3 linked regions of the Homo sapiens genome follow. The protein of the gene in region 1 purifies or fractionates together with the protein of each later gene. This does not show direct contact. Each region holds a gene or a part of one and is shown on either strand. Other genes may lie near its edges. The genes, in order: ALG3, KLHL14 and ALDH3B1.

The links.
Region 2: the proteins of ALG3 (region 1) and KLHL14 purify together in Homo sapiens (affinity purification with mass spectrometry; 3 studies listed by BioGRID and IntAct, with this or other methods). This does not show direct contact.
Region 3: the proteins of ALG3 (region 1) and ALDH3B1 purify together in Homo sapiens (affinity purification with mass spectrometry; 3 studies listed by BioGRID and IntAct, with this or other methods). This does not show direct contact.

The regions. Positions count from the first base shown.
Region 1 is NC_000003.12:184,241,716-184,245,994, forward strand, and holds the end of ALG3 (dol-P-Man:Man(5)GlcNAc(2)-PP-Dol alpha-1,3-mannosyltransferase), read right to left. Parts: intron 4,098-4,279; coding exon 3,998-4,097; intron 3,901-3,997; coding exon 3,753-3,900; intron 3,644-3,752; coding exon 3,483-3,643; intron 3,007-3,482; coding exon 2,886-3,006; intron 2,282-2,885; coding exon 2,076-2,281; intron 1,916-2,075; coding exon 1,839-1,915; intron 1,243-1,838; coding exon 1,098-1,242; intron 962-1,097; coding exon 799-961; 3' UTR 586-798; downstream 1-585. Other genes in the region: VWA5B2 (von Willebrand factor A domain-containing protein 5B2), read left to right, coding at 1-323. UniProt on the Homo sapiens protein: Dol-P-Man:Man(5)GlcNAc(2)-PP-Dol alpha-1,3-mannosyltransferase that operates in the biosynthetic pathway of dolichol-linked oligosaccharides, the glycan precursors employed in protein asparagine (N)-glycosylation.
Region 2 is NC_000018.10:32,672,097-32,679,064, forward strand, and holds the end of KLHL14 (kelch-like protein 14), read right to left. Parts: intron 5,235-6,968; coding exon 5,077-5,234; intron 2,702-5,076; coding exon 2,561-2,701; 3' UTR 577-2,560; downstream 1-576.
Region 3 is NC_000011.10:68,005,584-68,013,416, reverse strand, and holds the start of ALDH3B1 (aldehyde dehydrogenase family 3 member B1), read right to left. Parts: upstream 3,091-7,833; 5' UTR 3,025-3,090; intron 1-3,024. UniProt on the Homo sapiens protein: Oxidizes medium and long chain saturated and unsaturated fatty aldehydes generated in the plasma membrane into non-toxic fatty acids. May have a protective role against the cytotoxicity induced by lipid peroxidation.

The sequences.
Region 1 (4,279 bases):
GGCCAGGCCAGGTGGACAGTGGGCGGGGCTCAGACACCGAGGCCTCCGAGGGGGCGGAAGGGCTGGGCGGCACCGACCTGCGGGGCCGGACCTGGGCCACTGCCGTAGCACTCGCCTGGCTGGAGCACCGATGCGCCGCTGCCTTCGACGAGTGGGAACTGACAGCGGCCAAGGCTGATTGCTGGCTGCGGGCCCAGCACTTGCCTGACGGCCTTGACCTGGCCGCCCTCAAGGCCGCAGCCCGAGGGCTCTTCCTGCTACTGCGCCACTGGGACCAAAACCTGCAGCTACACCTGCTGTGCTACAGCCCAGCGAACGTGTGAAGGCTGCCCCCTGCTGCTTGGGCTGGCGCCCCACCCAACACACTCAAGTCACTGCCGCCCAGGGCTGGCCTCTTGGTGCTGGGAAAGTGTAGGCTGGTGCCAGCCTGTCCCCCACTGCTTCTTACTCCCTCCCTAGAGCCCTCTTGCCCCCACAAAAAGTGCCTGCCTGTGCTCTCTCCCTCTCCTCCCACCCCACTCACACTCCCCTCCATCCTCTGAGCTCCCTGCAACACAGTGGAAGGGTAGAGAGCCACAGTCCCCAAATCCTATGCAATAAAGTGCCTCTTAGGACTGCTTGAGTGAATTCTTTATCTGCTCCATACGTGTCCCTCACAGCCTGGACCAGGCATCGGCTGCCCCCACCTCCATGTAGGTTGCACAGAGTTGGACTTAGCAAGGTTTATTTGGAAGGGCAGAGTCCAACCAACCCCAGGTCCTGAGGGTAGACTCAGGTCCTGAGGGAAAGGGGTGGACTTCAGTGGGCTTTCTTGCTGTGTTGGGTGCTCTTGGGGAAAGGCTGCGGGCCCAGCCAGAGCTGCAGCAGGATGACGGCATGGCATATGTGCAGGGCAGCAGAGCTGCAGGATGTGGAAGGGTATGTGTTCCAGGAGAGCTCGATGAGCCCCAGCACCAACAACCTGGAGATGAGAAACAGGTTCCACGTTTCATCCAGTTGCAAGGCCTGCAGACCTGCAGCTCCTCATGCCCTAGACATAAACCCCCAACAGGAACTCCCTATCCCTTCCCACTCCCCCAGGTTGTCCCAGCTGGTACCTGAGCAGGTGTGTGAGCCAGCGTGCAGGCATGGCCCACAGGAGGTAGGGCAGTGTGTGGAAATACCAGACGTAGAACTGGTAGTGGAGGGAGCGGCTGAAGCAGATGCCAATGAAGTTGGAGGTGAAGAGGGTAGAAACGATCTGTATGCGGTGGTCAAGGCCAAGGGCAGGAGTGTGTGTGGGGGGGACTATCCCAAAACAGAGGGGCAATAGTTTTTAGGTCACATAGCCCTCTGGCTCTGCCATTCCTTGATGCATGCCTTTGGGCAAGTTTATTAACCTCTCTGGACCTGCTCCTCAACCAAATATGGAATATGGAGAGAGTAATACCTAGGGCCATAAGGTCTTGTGGGTTTGAACCCCTAACTTACTGGCTGTGTGACCTTGGTAAGTTACTTAACCTCATGAAGTCTTAATTTTTCCATCTGTAAAATGAGAATAGTAAATGTAAGTGTACCTCCCTGTCTCGGGGTCTCTTGTGAGCTTTCAATATTAGAACATATGTAAATCTCTTATGATAGTACCAGGGAGAAGTACTCATAAGAGTAGCTCGTATTTAGAATTAAGAATCAAATATCCTTCAATATGTGAAGTGCTCAGCACAGTGGTGCAGAATAGGACTTCTATGATTGGGGTCCCCTTTCCTCGCCCAGGTCACCAGCTGTCAAGGGATACCTGACCAGGACTCTGTCAGCACCTAGAGAGGGCAAGACTTACCTTCCCACAATTTAAAGGATATGGTTGGGTGTAAGGGGCTGGGGTGGAACCTTCCTTTTGGAGGGATCCCTCAGCAGCGACAAGATACTTTCCCCTGTCCTGGAGAAAAGCCATTCAGACAGTTATCAAGCCCCTTTTGTGAGTCAAACTCTAGACTCACCCCATGAGCTTAACTGACACTTCCCCCAAGCAGCCCCTAAGGCTTAGGCCCTTCACTCCTTCCCCCAACTCTGCCCATGGCACTACTGCCTTTTCTCACCTGTGCCACCTGCAGAGGGCAAACAGCAGGAGCAGGGTGAGGTGGGCAGTCAACAGGGCCAGGTGGAAGGCTCGATGCAGGAAGAGCGCCTCTGGGAGGAAGCGCCAGTTCACTGTCCAGTGGAACAGAAACTGGCGGCCAAGGTCAAAGGAGCGGGACAGGTAGCCGCTGGGGTTCTCCAGCAGGAAGGGCAGCCCCAGCACCACCTGAGGATTGGTGTGATGTCAGCAGAGCTGCCAAGGCTCATTCCCAATGACCAGCCTTCATGCTACTCATTGAGGGGTGTGGGACGGGGATGTAGGCCTCAGAGGTTCCCCAATTCCCACTAGAAATAGCAGGAAAACCACGTTCCCCACCCCCCGGCCCAGGCCAGTGCCTGGGGCCAAAGAAGCTCAGGAGGCAGGTCATAACAATGCTTTAAGGTGTGGATTCACCAAGTCATAACTGGGCAGAGCAAGGAAGGCTCTCAGAAGCCAGGCAGGGTGGCTCATGCCCAAAATCCTAGCGCTTTGGGAGGCCAAGGCAGGAGGATTGCTTGAGCCCAGGAGTTTGAGACCAGCCTGGGCAACCCAGCAAGAGCCCATCTCAAAACTTAAAATTAAAAAAAGCAAAAAGGCTCTCAGAGACCATCAAATTTAATACCCTATTTTACAGCTATGGAAACTACAGCCTAGCGATAGTGGCTCCCTAGCTCAGAATCAACTCCAAAACCCTGTCTCTTGGCTTTGAGGGAGTCTCAGGGATAGAGCCCCTCAATCAAGACAAGTGGCTTCTCCTTGATTAGAAAGAGGAAGGGTGAGATGGGGGTACCTGAAGGCCAGCACAGATTCCCAGCTTGGGGAGGGCCCCACGGAAGCCAAACTGTGTGAGGAGAAGAAACAGTAACCCAGGGGCGAAGAGCAGCACATTCATCTTCACAGAGACTGCCAGGCTGGGGTGAGCAGGGGAGAGGAAGGGTGGAGATCAGCTCCAGGGCCATGCACACAACACCCAAAGACATACCCCCCACCATCACCACAGCAACCTCCCCCCCGCCGCCACGCCAACAAACTCCAAGATGGGACCTACACTCACAACTGTTGGAGGGAAGAGCCTGGAGTAGGCAGGAGGCAGATACATAGTCTCTATGCCTACTAGATGCGAATGAGCATATACTGAGTATTTAGAATGTGAAGGACTAATTCCAACAAGGAATGCTGTCTGGGAGGAAGACAGGATGGAAAGAGGGCATGTGTGTATGTTGGGGGATGGCAGGGCAGAAACTTTCTATAGATCCTGGACTCGCTTTGTGGAGCCCTGAGTGACCCATGCTGTCTTGGCTACTCCTTTACTCCCTCTGCTGCAGGAAATTGGGAAGAGATGGAAATGCAGAAAACGAGAGGGGACCAGAAAGGAAGAGGTGTTGACCTGAAAAAGCAGCAACCCCAGCCCCAGCGCTGGGCCAGCAGGAGGTTGATACTGAGGAAGAGCAGCACCATGGCCACTGGGTCATTGAAGAGCCGCAGCACAAAGATGGAGTGGACACGGTAAGAGGCGCAGCACATGAAGAAAAAGACGAAGGGAGGTACCTAAAGGGAAAACACAGTAAGGTACAAGGTCAGCTCAGCAAGCCTGAGCCATCCCCACCACCCAGCCCTCCCAGGCTGGGGCCCTCTAGCCCTGGTAGCATGGACTCACCTTGCAGGTCTGGTGATAGATCAAGAAGACAAGCAGCAAGGTAGCCAGGTAGAGCACAGCAAAGATGTTCTGGGCCATGCGGATGTCAGTGCCTCGGCTGGTGGCATAGTACAACCCCATAAAGATGTACACGAAACCAGCTGGGTACCTGGAAGATGAGAGAAAATGTGAGCCTGGGTCAGGTCACACAGACTAGTACCTAACCAGCCCCTCACATCCTCCCTGAACTTCCTGTCCCCACTCACACAAGTGGTCCGGTGTCACCCTGCAGTTGGGTATAGTCATAGGTACCATTGATGACGCCTTCTACCTCGGCCATGTAGGCCTTCCAGTCAATCTCTGTGTCTGGAAGAAGACAAGATGATCTGGTTACTTCTGAGTCTAGAACTTGTCTGCCACCCTCCCCATGCCTCCAGACCATCAAAACACAGACTTTCAGCCAATTCCCAGGGCTTTACTACCTCTTAATCTAACTCTTTATCTGACATTCTCTGGGTGAGCCCAGGCATCTCAAACTCAACATTTCT
Region 2 (6,968 bases), on another chromosome or scaffold:
GTAAATTCCCCCCAGCTTACAGGCTTCCGAACGTAGCTCCTGATCTTACACAGCTCTTTGCCTGGAAGGCTGCCCAACTGCTACCCTTAACTGCAAGCCTTAGTTCCCCCTATGTCTCCCATAGCCCCTCTAATTGCCCTGTACAACTACTTCATCAGATCTTCAAAAGAGAATAAAATTAAATACTATGTATTTGATAATTGATTTAATTAAATGTGTGACTCACTTATTCTTTAAAAAGGGTGCAGTTATTTTTAACACAAATGGTGCTTCTAATAATGTGTATAAATATTTAGTTATTTGATCTCAGATAAGTTATGTCTTATTATAACACTCTTGTAGTGAAAACATCAGATTCCACTCATATGATTTTTAACTCACAGCATTTTCCAGAAGTATTCCATAATTTTAGCACTGTCCATACTGTATACATTTACATATTGTGAGAAAGCCAAATAACACTTGTAAATCACAGCTTCAGAACAAAAATATTTAGGCATTTACATATCACAAACCTTCAAACGGTTTAATGTAGAGATTTATACATATGTAAGTAGGATATGAGAGACAGTTGAATTAGTACATAAAGTTTTTATTTAAAGTTTTCCCCTTCCAAGCAAGCTTCATTTACACATTCTAATACTGTACAAAATTTACATTCTCTGTGACTTATTTATTCACTTTTCACTTTCTAGTAACTTATGTCTCTCTGAAATACAGAAAGCTTTACTTATAATTCTCATAAATGCTTTTATTTTGGTGAGAAATAAAAAATAAAATGCAGAACAAGTCTAAGGAAAGCAAAGGTTCTTGTACAAATTGTGACTTTTGGAAGAAACAGTGACAGTTGACAACAAAAGGTTCTGAAGCAGACCTCATTCTATTCATGATGTCAGCTGAGATTTTCCCACAGAGTACTGTAACTTTTCTTTCTATATACTCATATGTTTTAAGGAAAAAGAAATGACAGTTGATTGCACTGGATATACATATATTTATATATATATATTTTTACAACGGATCCTTTGGATCTGAACATACAAATAAATACAAAAACAACGAAGATTGCACTTTACTGTAGAAACGGCATCGGATTCCAGTATACCCATTTATCTTGACGTGCTCTGCCATGAAAGCTTATCACTAAGGCATTTTTCATCTGTGGGATTTCCCTAATTACTGTTTTGAATGACACATTTGTTGAAGGATTCAACACCATCTCTGGATGGTTAAAATATATTTTAGGCTTTTATTTACTCCTAAAGTTGTTGTTCAAGCTCTGGAGGGCTTGAAAATCGAATGTGCATTCCTGTCAGTTTTGTCCTTTTGGTTGGCCACATTGAGACTATCTCATGCTATCCTGACCTTCTGCTCCTGAATTCCTCATGCTCCTCAAGACAACTAGCAATTGCTCGCTTAACTGAGTTCAGGCATCTCTGGTGATAACAAACAAAATATGATGAATTGGGGGAATAACGATCGTAAGTCAAGTGTCTAGAGGCACCCGAAGGTGAGGAAGAGGAGAAGTATTCTGTCAGGTGCTATAATTGGCTCCTGTGGCTCTTGTAAGTTCTGTGTTTTAGAAACAGAAAGACAACTGGAATTCTACTTAATGGAAATTATTCTTTCTTTTCATCCCTGAATTCCTGAAAACAATCTCCCATTTTTTTTTATTATGGATTAAATTTGGGTCAGACATATCATCTAACAGAATCTCTAAAATAGTATTGACTGAATTTGTCAATCCTGTCTTTTGAAGTAAATAACATGTGTGTTCACTACTTATATATCACAAAATATGAAAAAGCACAAACCTCCATGAACTGAATAGTGACATAATATATTTTGTTTTAATCTTTCAGATAAAATTGAGGACACAGAAATGACGACTCTGTCTAGCCTAGAACCTATAGGGTAGAAAGCATTTATTACAAGAGCCAACATCTTTCTCTTTTCTGATCCCATGAGGTGCTGTAAGGGCAGAAGGTGTATGAAATGAAGTTGTATAGAAACGAAAATGCCTCTCTTTAATCTTACATGATTTTCAATAACAGTGTTGCCAATGGAGTCTGTGAAGTAGCCAAAGGTTAAGAGTACAGAATCAAGTGGCAATTTCTGTAATGCAGTGTATTTTGGTGGCTCAAATTTGGAATCATTCTTGAACACAATATCCCCGAAATGTCAACATAGATCACATGCAGGTAGACTACAATGCACAATACTGATCTGAGGTCTCTCTGGGGCCAGTCTTCTGTATTTTATCTTTCTCCTTTTGCAAGTTAAGATTCACATGAAGAGTTTTTGTAAAGCTGGGATAAGTTAAAACCAGTCTGAAATGGAAGAGTCTGTCACCACAGGAAGTTTGGTGCGATCTGAGTTATAGACATAGTATCTGTTCAAGAACAGGTCTCTTTCTTTTGTAGTTACTTATAAATCATCAGAAACCAAGGGTGGGTTTTGGCAGTTGTACCATTAGAATGCATTGTTCCTATTATAATAGTGATGTCACCTGCCATTGCTTCCTAGAATGTGATACTGTTCATTCCAGAGTTTCCTGGTGTTATTTGTTGTATGGTACACAAGAGGGCAGAATAACTGTCACACAGGCAGGGCCTGCCAACGGTTCTGCTACATCTCCTTCGAGTTCTGTCCAGGTTCCTTTCTCTGGACAATAGCATATTGTAGATGACTTGTAGGCCCCCTGTAATGACAGAGGAGGGAGCATTTAGAGAAGGAAGCTAGAGAAGTGCAATGGCAATGTTACTGATCATATTTATTAATATATTGAAAAGAAAATATCTGTTCTCCATTCTTGCTAAATAATTCCAAATGAAAGCAATGGATTTTAAACTGTTCTATTCCAAAGAAAAAGCTAAGATTGACAAAATTTCAAAAAAAATTTTTTTGTGTGTGTGACTAATAATAAAAGTTAAATAAATACCTAGAGGATCCTAGATGCTCAACAAATCCTAAATTGGCTGGGCCCAGTGGCTCATACCTGTAATCACAGAGCTTTGGCAGCTAGGGCGAGAGGATCACTTGAGCCCAGGGGTTTGAGACCAGCCTGGGCAACATAGCAAGACCTCATCTTTACACACACACTAAAAAAGATAAAAACAAATTGGGCATGATAGTGCACATCTGTAGTCCCAGCTGCTTGGGAGGCTAGGACAGGAGGATCGTGGTTACAATGAGCTCTGATCATGCCACTGTACTCCAGCCTAGACAACAGAGTAAGATCTTGGCTTAAAGAAAGAAATACATACATAAAAATAATATACCAAAAATAGAAGTTATCCAGCTGGTTTAAGTTAAAAAAGAAAAGAGAACAAATTTACCTTAAACATTCAAATAGTTAAGACAATTATATTTCAGATTGTTGTCTCACTTCTCCATTTTAATTTTGCTACTGTGAAGAATCAGAGCTAGGATTGAAAACCAGTTCAAAGTAAACTGGAAATGAAAGTTTGTCAACTTTCTCATATATTGATTTATTTATTTTCAAGAGGCCACATGAGAAATAAAATGTCCTTAATCTTGTTTTCTTTGTCAACTTTAGAGGCTAGTGCTTGTGTAACCTTTTCCTCCCCAAACCAAGGCAGCTTTGTGTTTATCATAGGAAAAAAACGAAAGACCCAACCAACCTAATAATTATTTTTCTAAAAATGCCCCAATGTCTGCTTCCAAACAAATACATTCTTGCAGCTAACAATTTGTACAAGCAAACAAGTGCACATATGAATATCTAGTTATATATGTCAATACATATTTGCCTATATAACTAATAATGTTTTAAAGCTCCCCAAAACTTTATGTCACAATCTTGTTAGAGGCAAAAGAAATAAAACCAAATAATATTATTAAAACCACCAAATTAATCTTACAAAACTAACACAGGTAATCAGGAAAATATAAAAATGTTCATCATTTTAAAAGTGAATATGTAATCTGCTAGACCCAATGTGTCTCCTGATGTACTGTAATTTGAACTACAAAGCCACCTTCGCAGGTGTTTTTGCTAAGAAAGAAAAAAGAAGTTAACGAAAGAAATAAATAAAGGAAAAAGAAAGAAGCTGAATTTAATTATGCCCTTATCTCTAACTTCCAGTCTCCAGAAAATATGCAGATGGAGGACTATTTCAAATGACTCCACAAGGAAGTCATTAGCCAATTTCAGAATGTAGGGTATTCTGTATAACTGAACCTCTTTTGTCAAGGAGTCAATGGCATGAAACAAAAAGAGTCAGGGTAATGTTCTAGATTGCAAGAGATATATGAGACATAATGATGAAATATAAGAAAGACTTGTTGGGTCCTGATTTGGATATGTCAATTTGAAAAATACATCTTTTTTAAAAGTCAATGGCAAATATTTGAATATAAAAATGGATATAAAGGAATTATTGTTAATTTTTTGGAGTGTGAGTGTATTTACGTAAGTTAATGATTTTTAAAAGGTAAATACTGAAGCATTTAGGGTGAAATGATATGACATCTGGGATCTACTTCATATTGCCTGAGCCAAAGATTTTAAAAGTGGGGATAGATGAAGTGTGGCAAAATGTTGATGGATGTTGAAGCTGAATGATGGGTTAATGAAGTCCCATTCTAATCTCGATTTTTGTGTATGTTTAGAAAATTTCACGATAAAGAGGGAAAATAAGGGGAAAAATCAATGGCAAATCACACATCCTAAATAGATTTCATGAATATTGGAGAATGAATTTCCATTTTTCATGCCTTACCGGTCAGAAACCTTTCAGACTCTCTTACTGAACTGCAGAACATTTGTAAAATCACCTCAGTTTGACTTTCAGTTGGGAAGCCAGAATCACAAGGTCATAGAGACAGGAGAGAAGGGAGACCTACTGCACCTTGTGATGCTGTTGATCAGCTAGCAAGCCAGTTCAACAGCCACCAGGCTGATCCTATTTTACTATCTAAAGCAACTGACTGCTTGCATGTAAGTATGATACTCTTAAAAGGTACATGTGTGGAGGATAACACATTTGGAAGGATACAGAAAACGTAAGCACAAACGAAATAAAGGAGGATGCAGTAAATGTGGACACATACCATACTCCAGCTGTAGCCTCCCACAAGGTAAATGCTGTCATCAAGCACTGCACAGCCAGGGCCACTTCGACCCTCCAAAATGGGAGTTTGGAGTATATTCCACTGGTCACCTTTTGGGTCATAGCATTCCACAAGCATTACATCAAGGTGGGAGAAACCTAAGTGACAGAACAAAGTGGAACAACAAAATGATAAATGCTCAGGGTCCCAATTTAAGGCTAGGGCTTCTTTTAAAAACAAGTCTCAAGCCAAAATAGATAATTATGTTTTTGAAGACACAAATGCATAAATTCACTGAGATTGGGAGAAATGTCAGAAAGACCTAGAAAACCCCAAAGAAACTCTAGTTGTTTTAGATTACTTCAAAGCAAGAATGCCTGAGCAGATGTCATTAGCAAAGGTTGATTATATGTGGATAGATCTTATTAAAATGGTTTATTAAAACCTTATTTAAAAATGTTTAAAATAATAGTTTAAGCAAGCATTGTACAAGGCACTTACAATATGCTAGTTTTCTTTTCTAAGGGCTTTATTTAAATGAACTCATTCAATCCCTTCCATCACTCTATGAGATAGTCCCTGTCCTCACTTTCATTTTATAGATAAGGGAACTGAGAGACAGAGAAAGTCAATTACTTGAGTAAGTCACAAGTCAGTAAGTAGATAGGTTGAGATTTGAATCCAGGAGAGGCTTCAGAACTCAGACTCTTGCAGACTAAATTGTATTGCTTTTTCTCAAATGAATATTTAACTCTCTCAGAATGTTTTAATAGATTAAAAATATGTTGTTCAGCATCTTTTACCTTTTCCACAATTTGACTATGTTTATAAACAACTCTGATGATGTAAATCGTTTCTAGTATTTACCAAGAATCAAGGTTTAGAGTAGAAGGCTGAGTAACTTTCACTGAAGAGCTTCTCCTACAGCTTCTGATAGGGTTCTTGGTGTCTGGGGCACTACCTAGGTCACTGAGAACAACTTAAGTTCCTGGTCTCTACTGGAGCCCTGCCTTTAATTTAGAGGGTGAGAAACACCTAGTGGGAGCTTCGTGCTCACCAAGCAGGTCAAACCCTTAATGTTTTTATCTATTTTTCCCGTAGTTAAATGCAGGCTATGGATATTTGCTAGCTGACAATCTCAGTGTGTATTCTAAAGTAACCAACATACTGGATTCTTTAAAATAATTGAGAAGATGAATAAAAAGGTGGAGAAATTTTTGTTCTTGAAGAGGTAGACAGGTTATTTCGGTTACTAACTTCCTACAGAAAATAAATCCCATAGATGGTGGAACAACAGAACAATGTACTCACTGCAACACCAGAGTATATTCCTTTCCTTTACCATTAATATTATTGATTATAATTTTTGAAGCATATACACTTAGAATGAGCACTTGGGCAAATTCCAGGTTCTGACCTTGGAGGCATCATTTGAAGATATATGTGCCTTCTCTGTGACAATGTTATACATGGGAACTGTAATCCTCACAGAAACCATCAAGGCAAGGATAATTATCCTTCCTTTACAGACATGAGGTTAAGTGTCTTGAGTGAGACCACACAACTAGAAAGTGCATAACTAGAATCAAACCTAGGCTTAGATACAATGTCTATATCCTCTCCTCACCATGATGCCTCCTTGAGCTAACCCAGTTTTGATGTGTGCACACTATTTCTCATTTAGATTGTCATTACCTGAGTCTTTCTGTCCAAACCTAACCTTAAATGTTAGAAGATCCTAGAGCATTTAGACAATATCTTGTGCAAAAGAAATGCAAAGAAATCACATTTTAACATAGAAGGATACAAAGTTAATACAAAACATGTCGACGTAAAGGAATGGTGTGTGGCTTGAAATGAAAGAGCACCGTTGAAAGAGATAAAGAATAAAA
Region 3 (7,833 bases), on another chromosome or scaffold:
GAATCTCTGCAGAAACCACAAAAATGCAAGGCACGTAACGTGAATGGTGGACTGTGGGCCGGGAGCTCTGTGGGGGATGGAGTTCTGCAGGGAACATTCCAGCAACCCTCCTAGCAACGCTGAAACCAACTCACCAGGGCCACAGGACACATCTCTCCCACAGGGCAACCAGCCCTGGCATTGCCCCTACGGGTCACTCACTCTGGACTGAGGCCCCCAGGGAGTGCCCAGGGCAGGACCCTGGCAAGCGGAGAAGCCAAGGCCGCCTTCTGCCTGAGATTGGGGGGATCCTGGGCCTGTTATCTCCCGAGGGTGCTGGGCAGCCATTGTGGACACACAGAATAGGGAACTCCTGAATCAGGCACTGGGCTGGGGTCCCCCAAGCCCACCCCCGCGGCACTCATCCCACAGTGTGAGGTTGTAAGGAGTGTGATCCCCATGCCTGCCCTCGCTCATTTCACCACCACGGCCGCCCACTGAGGGACCACTATTCACCCCACTGAAGGAGATGGAGGCTGAGGCTCAGAGAGGGCCAGAGCTTGCCTGATACCACCCAGCTCCTCACATTGGAAAACCCAAATCCAGAAGAGCAGAAGGCTATCCACCTCAGCTCCCACCTCCCTCACAGTCCCCTGGGGATGGGCAGCCAAGTCCTTGGGGGAAGGGACACTGGGCTGGGGCCTGGACGGCAGACCCAAGGCTGGGTGGACTCCGGTAGGCCAGCTGTGGGAGGGGTGACCGGTGAGGGGAGGTCTCTTGCTGTTTGGATTCCATTTCCTCGGCCTCCCTCCTCACTATTGCTGCCACTCCCCACACTGCTTAGGTTGTGGGGTCTGAGACTGCCTCTTGCCTCCTGCGGCTGAGCCACTGAGGTCCAGGGGCTGATGGGCCCAAGGGTCTCTGGGGCGTGGCCCCCCATCACAGGTTGAGGTGCATTTGGCCCAGACCTGCAGCTTCTGGGGTGGGGGGGAGTTGCCACATCATTTGGTGATGAAGATAGCGGCTGTTTCCTCTGGCCTGGGGGCCAGGGCAGGACCAGCCACTTCCTCTCAAGGCCACGGGCCTCTAAAAACAATACTCAGGTGCCCATGTGCTGGGCACTATGCCAGCCTGGGTGCTCGCTGTGGGTGCCCACAGGCTCCGGGAACAGAGTGGGGAGGAACGGGGCTGACATATCACAGGGAGTGAATGGCTGGCCGAGCCGCTGCCCCCAACCTCACAGCAGGGACCGTCCCTGGGCAGGGACTCCCTGCTCGTTCACACCCTGGCCTATCAAGTGGGTTGGATTCCAGGGAAACGGAGGCTCTGCCCGTTCTCTCATTCTTCCTGCCTCAGTTTCCTCATCTACACCATGGGCCTTCTAAGAGCATCCTCCCAGCATGGCATGGTCTGGGGGCCCAATGACCTGGGTTTAAACTGCAGCAACCACATGTGTGAGTGGGGAGACCTTGGGCAGGTTGCTTGACCTCTTTGTATTCACGTTTCCCATCTGTAAAATTGGGCACTGCCTGTGGCACCCATACCACTGTCGGGAGAATTCAAGCACTGGGACCCCGGGAAGTGCTCAGTATCCATGGAGGACGGATGTACCAGAGGAGGGCTCAGGGAGGAGACCCCTGGGGCAGGGGCCTGAAGGGGCCTTGATCCAAGGTGGGTGTTGGGGAGACAAGGACATCACCCTGAGACCCAACTGAGGACAGGGATGTGGTGACAGAGGGACTGAACATGGTGGGTAGAGGGCCTGGGGGACCCCCATCAGGGCAGCCAGAAGGCGGGGATCACTAGGCCAACTTCAGGGGACCCACAGGCCCAATACCGCAGGGTCTCCGATTCTGATCTCCTGCAGTGTAGCTTCATTAAACAAACATGATGAGAGGCTGTGATTTTGAACTGAGCTCCTGTACTAGGCCCCAACAGACCAGACCAAACCAAAATGGAGGCACTCATGCCAAATGCCACATCATCAAACCGAAGCTTTAAGGAAGCAGACAGAGCCCAAAACCACAGACCAGTTTCTCCGGGAAGCAGGAGATTCCAGTCCACCTGAGCCGGCATCATCAGGTCCCCTCTGCCTTACCCCTTAGAAAAAAGCAGTCCGCTTAGAAAAAAGCAGTCTGCAGCGATCCGGTATTAGGCGGTTTGGTGTTTCCTATTTTTCTGTTTCCTCCTTTCTGCCTTATGAACCCCCTGCTCTGCCACTGCCTGGTGGGAGCTCTCACTCCATTTTGTAGAATGGAGGCTGTCCGGATTCACGAATCATGAATAGAAGCCAATTTGATCTATAACTAAATGTGTTGTCATTTTGTCTTTTGATGGCCTTAAGCTGGATTTTCATGAGGCCTCCCAAAGCTCAGCAGCCCCTCCCTTGGGGAGCCAGGGACCAGCGTATCCCCTCATTGGTGGCTCGGGCCAACCCAGCCCCGGGTCACAAAGAGGCTGAACAGCCTCGGCTCCCTGATGGGGCACAGTTCCCGGGATGAGAAGTGCCTCCTGCAGGCGGGGCGGGGCTGGCTGGCCACTCCTTTCTTGGACCCTGACAAAGTCCATTGCTAAGAATGATTCTTTCCCAGAGTCATTCATGGCCACATCCCTGCATCAGCACTGGGCATGCAGGCTGGTGCCCAGGAAACGGCTGTTGCTGGAAGGGATACTTGACCCCTGTGGGGAAGGGGCGCACAGTCCTTCCTGGGGCAGCTGGACCCAGAGCTGTTCCCTTGGTTCCCTTGGAGGGTGTCCGGGAATCCCAGGAAAAGGAGGCGGTGGCAACCCAGCTCGGACAACGGAAGGGTGCCTGCTGGCCAGGGGGGTGCCCGGGACCTCGCTGCCACTCCCCAGATCTGCCTCTCCTCCTTCCGCTTTCTCCCCCAGCAGGCAGGCAGATGAGCTCAGCCAGGACACAGTGGCCTCTGAGTGCAGCTGCCGGTGGCTAGGCCCGCCTGGGCTGCCTGTAACCCGGAGTTGCTGAGCTGGACTCTGGCCCGACTGCTGGCCCACTACAGCCCCAGCCTCCCCGGGATACTCTACCTGAGGCTCTGCCAAGCTGCCCTTCCTCCTGGCTGTCCCGCTCTGCCTGGTGGCCCTGCTGTTAAGAAATGTCCAACGCAGGGCCAGTCCCCGGGGGAGGGGTGGGGCGGAGTTGCCCTAGCCTCGTGCCTGACTCTGGCTCTGGGCGGGCTGGAGGCTGCAAGCCAAGATTTCACCACCGCCTCCCTCGGGGGCCTCGACATCTCCTCCCAGACCACAGAGAAGAAGTCAACGCCCAGAGGGCGCCAGGCTAGAGCCACACAGCAGGGCTGAGCTCCGAGCTGAGGGGCAGCCTGAGGAGGAGGAGGAGAGGCTGTGCAGCAGGGCTGAGCACTGAGCTGAGGGCCAGCCTGAGGAGGAGGAGTGGGGCAGTGGGCCCTGGGAATCCCGGTGTGGGGTGGGGAACTATTATTGTATTAATTATATTCTATTATAATATTATGTGGAATGTTATGGCCCAGAATAGCAAGGAAGTCTCGACCCCCCACTCCCAGCCTTCCCTCAATGCCTCCCCTAAGGAATAAGACCACTACTACTCCTGCTGCCCTCCTCCTACCACCTTGCCTGGTTTACAAGACAGGAGGAAAGAGAGAAGGCAAAAAGTTAGAAAAAAACAGAAGTAAGAGAAATAGCCAGAAGACCTTGGCGCCACCACCTGGCCCTGGTAGTTAAAAAAAAGTGATAATAATATCAACCCCTGACCTAAACTACTTGTGTTATCTGTAAATTCCAGACATTGTATGAGAAAGCACTGCAAAACTTTCTGTTCTGTTAGCTGACGCATGCAGCCCCCGGTCACGTTCCCCGAGCTTGCTCGATTTATCACGACCCTTTCACGTGGACCCCTTAAAGTTGTAAGCCTTTAAAAAGGCCAAGAATGTCTTTTTCAGGGAGCTCGGCTCTTGACGCAAGTCTGCTGATGCTCCCAGCTGAATAAACCTCTTCCTTCTTTAATCCAGTGTCTGAGGTGTTTTGTCTGTGGCTTGTCTTGCTACACCCTACCCAAGACTCAGTTTCCCCTTCTGCAAAACAAAGAGGTCAGACCCAAAGGTGGCTGGAGTCTAGAAATACCATCTTAGGGACCATACCTCATGCCTGCTCCTCTCCCAGCGCCCTGTGCTTCCGTGTTCCTCCACACCACCCCATGGGCCGCCCCATTCATAGAGCCTGTCTTTCTGCAGATCTAACATTTTACAAACGAGGAAGTGGGGGCAGAGAGGGGGTGGGATGTGAACATGGGGCGTGTGTGTGGCAGAGCTTCTTGCTCCAGAGCTGGGGCTGCACCCGTTTCGGATGTCCCCTCTGCCTCCCAGGAGGAGTGCCTGCCTCTCTGCTTAGGACCGTGGTCATGATGCCACGTGTCGCCTTGGTGGTTCCTGTAGTCCCGATCTTCCTCAAGTTCGGCACAGGCAGCTGTGCCTAAGCCTGTCCCTGCCTGCCCCCAGCCCGCCCCGGATACACCTGTCAGAGCCAGCGTGCTGTGGGGATGATGTGCAAGCTGCTGTGGGTGTGGACAGGCAGGGGACAGGGTGACAGGTGTGGAGGAAGAGCCTCCTCTATGCCCCTTCCTGGGCCTGCCGCTGCTACCATCTCCCTGGTGCCCTGGGCCTCCGTAGCTCCCGGCCCCGGGGCCTCTGGGCCAACGTGGCACCTGGGAGGTGCTCATCATGGCCCCCCCCACCCGCCAGCTCCCTGCCTACCTGGGAGGGCGGTGAGGTCTTCTGGACCATGCCCACACCGGTGGCCCGTGATTAGATAGTTAGGGTGGGGGTGAAGGACTGCAGAGCCCCTGTCCTCTGTGTGGGATGGAGCCCCCAGCCACTGCCAGTCACGTGGCTCAGCATGTGACAGCCCAGCCCTGCCATTCTCTGGAGCTCAGCCAGATTGAGCGGGTGCCAGGCAGGGCTGGGCAGGGGCTGAGCCTGTAGGTCTCAGCTGGGAGTGAGGCCCAGAGAGGGCAGCCACTGGTCTAAGGCCACACAGCAAATCAGGGACCCATCTTGGCGGGTACTGGCAGGTGGGAGGGGTGTTTCAGGATCCCGAGGGTCCCCTCCCTGGCCAGGGAGCTGTTGAAGAATTTCCCCCAACTCACAGGGGCCGAACTTGTCATGAATGCAGGAGCAACCTGGGAGGAGGCCCCCGAAGAGGCCTGTCCTCCCGGGACAGAACTCCTAGCCTTCCCTGGGAGTGAGGCTCCCCCCAAGGGAGGCCACACACCTCCCAGGAGGGCTGGGCCCTCCCCACTCTGGGTTGGGTGCCCCTCACTACTCCTCAAAGCTCCAGAGGCTCAGTAGGGCCTGGGAGTCCCATCTTTGTTGAGGAGCCCAGGGTAAATGGGGAGCCCTCTGGGTAGGGCACCAGGAGGACTCACTTTTGGAGCCAGCTCTGGGGTGAGGTCTGCCAAGGCCCAGGCCAGCCAGGGGGAGTGGGTGGAGGGGTTGCTCAGGGCTCCGGGCCAGACAGCTGCGGCCCCGCCTGCCCTGCCTCCTCCTTGCTGGGCTGACGCTTCGCCTCTTTGGGCCTCAGTGTTCCCATGTGAGAATGGGGCTGACTACAGTCCCGGGGGCATCTGTGGGTGAATGAGAGGGTTCGGCAGGCATGGATCTCAGCACCTGGCATGGAGGGCGTTAAGTGTGAGGTCTGGGCTCAAATCCTGGTCCTGTCACTTACCTGTGTGACCTAGGTTAGTGTCTTAACCCCCCGTGCCTCTGCCTTCCCATCTGTAAAATGGGACATAAGTGATTGTGAGGCTGAAACAAGTTATTCCATGCACGTGGGCCCGGAACTGTGACCATTCCAAGTGCCCGGCCCCCTCTGGAAGGGTCTGAGAGCTACCTTCCAGACTCTAGGACAGGAGTGTGGGCAGGGCATGAGCATGGCATCAGGTGGAATCATTCATCCATTCATAATTCATTCATTCATTCCCTCACTTCTCAGAAACACGCCCCTGAGCCTGGCTCACAGGGCCTCAGACCTGCCCAAGAGCATCTCACTGCCTCATCTGCCCACGAGTGACCTTGAAAAGAAACGTCCCCTCACTGGGCCTCAGTTTCCCCAGCTGTAAAATGGGGGCTGACTCTGCCTGCCTCACATGGCTACTGCGAGGGTGAAACGAGAGCCGACCTGAAGGCACCGACAGGGCACCTGGTTCTCAGTAGGCGCTCAGAGCATGTGAATGTCCTCCTGCCCCTCTCCTTGCCCTCCTGAGGAAGTGGCTGCCCCAGGCCTTGGCCCTGAGGCCCTGGCCCTGCCTCCCACCCCCTCCCTGGCAGTCTTGAAGGCTGGACCCACCCTGGCTCCTTGAAGAGGCAAAGTTAGAGGCTGTAGGGGCCCAGGGCCCAGGACACAGTCAGAACTCACGGGCAACGGTGAATGCGGGTCACTTGTTCATTTACGCACTCAACAAACCTTTACTGAGCACCTACTGTGTGCAGACACTTCACACAATTTTCACAATTCCCAGACATTATTGACCATGCTTTCCAGCTGGGCCACACAGTGACAAGGACTCATGGGGATCCACAACCAGCCTGGCCTGGCTCCCCGGCCCACGGTGCTTCCAAGGTGCCTGGAGCCCTCGCACAGGAATGGGCTGGAGTCTTCAGCTCTGGGTGAGCCCTTTGCCACCAACTCTCAGGAGCCTCAAGTCTCAGTGGAAAGCAGCAGCCACCTGGGCATTTGCTGTGCCAGGCACTGGGCAGAGCCTTTGGCACACCCCAACCTGGGGACCTCCCACCATCCTGTGAGCCAGACTCAGTGATCATCATCCCCATTGGCTTTAATGTTTAAAATATTGTGGAATCACATCCATGCCAGGGAAGTGGTGTGAAGGGAATCACGTGGGCTGCCCAGCACGCTCCTGTGTCAGTGCAATGCGGGGCAACAATATTCCAAGAGGTTGTTTCAGGGAGTTCCAGTTGAGAGCAATATTTATTCTCTTCTGCTTGCTTTTCTGCAAGGAACATCGATTATTTTCATAATGAGAACTGAAAGTAAAGGCTTATTATAGAGAAAAGCATTGGCAAACAGTGAGCACGGGGGGATCTGGCCACCCCTTCCTGGGGATGTGACTGTGCACTGTTGCAACCTGGATGGGTTGGTGGAGGTGCTGGCCCTGCTCAGATCTCTGTCCCGCAGGTCACCCTGGTGTGTTTATCTGGGCCACCCTATCAGCCTCTTAGATAGTCTCCAGGCTCCCCAAGAGCAGCTCCATAAACCACCTAAAAAAAAAAATCCTTTCTGGAGAGAGGAGGTGTATCAGTCAGGGTTTAGTGCCTCCAGGGCTGTTTTTTGTTTTTTTTGTTTTTTGTTTGTTTGTTTGTTTGAGAGGTCTCACTCTGTCACCCACGCTGGAATGCAGTGGCACAATCTCAGCTCACTGCAGCCTCATCCTCCTGGGCTCAAGCAATTCTCCCACCTCAGCCTCCTGAGTAGCTGGGGCTACAGGTGTCCACCATCACACCAGGCTAGTTTTTGTATTTTTTGTAGAGATGGGTTGGGGGGGGGGGTTTGTCTCACTTTGTTGAGGCTGGTCTTGAACTCCTGAGCTCAAGTGATCCTCCTTGGCCAGCCAAAGTGCTGGGATTGCAGGCGTGAGCCACAGCGCCCGACCCTCTCCAGGTGTTTTGAGTAGGAGACATTGAGTGCAGGGAATTGGTGGTACAGCACAGGTGATGGAAGAGCCCAGGATGGGCAACCATAGCAACCGCCACAACCCCCAGGCCCAGAGGAACAAGGGGAGGAAGAGATTGCACCAGGCCCCAGAAGTTTGGGGTCCCTCAGGGAAATTGAGAAGCTCGGGGGGCCCAC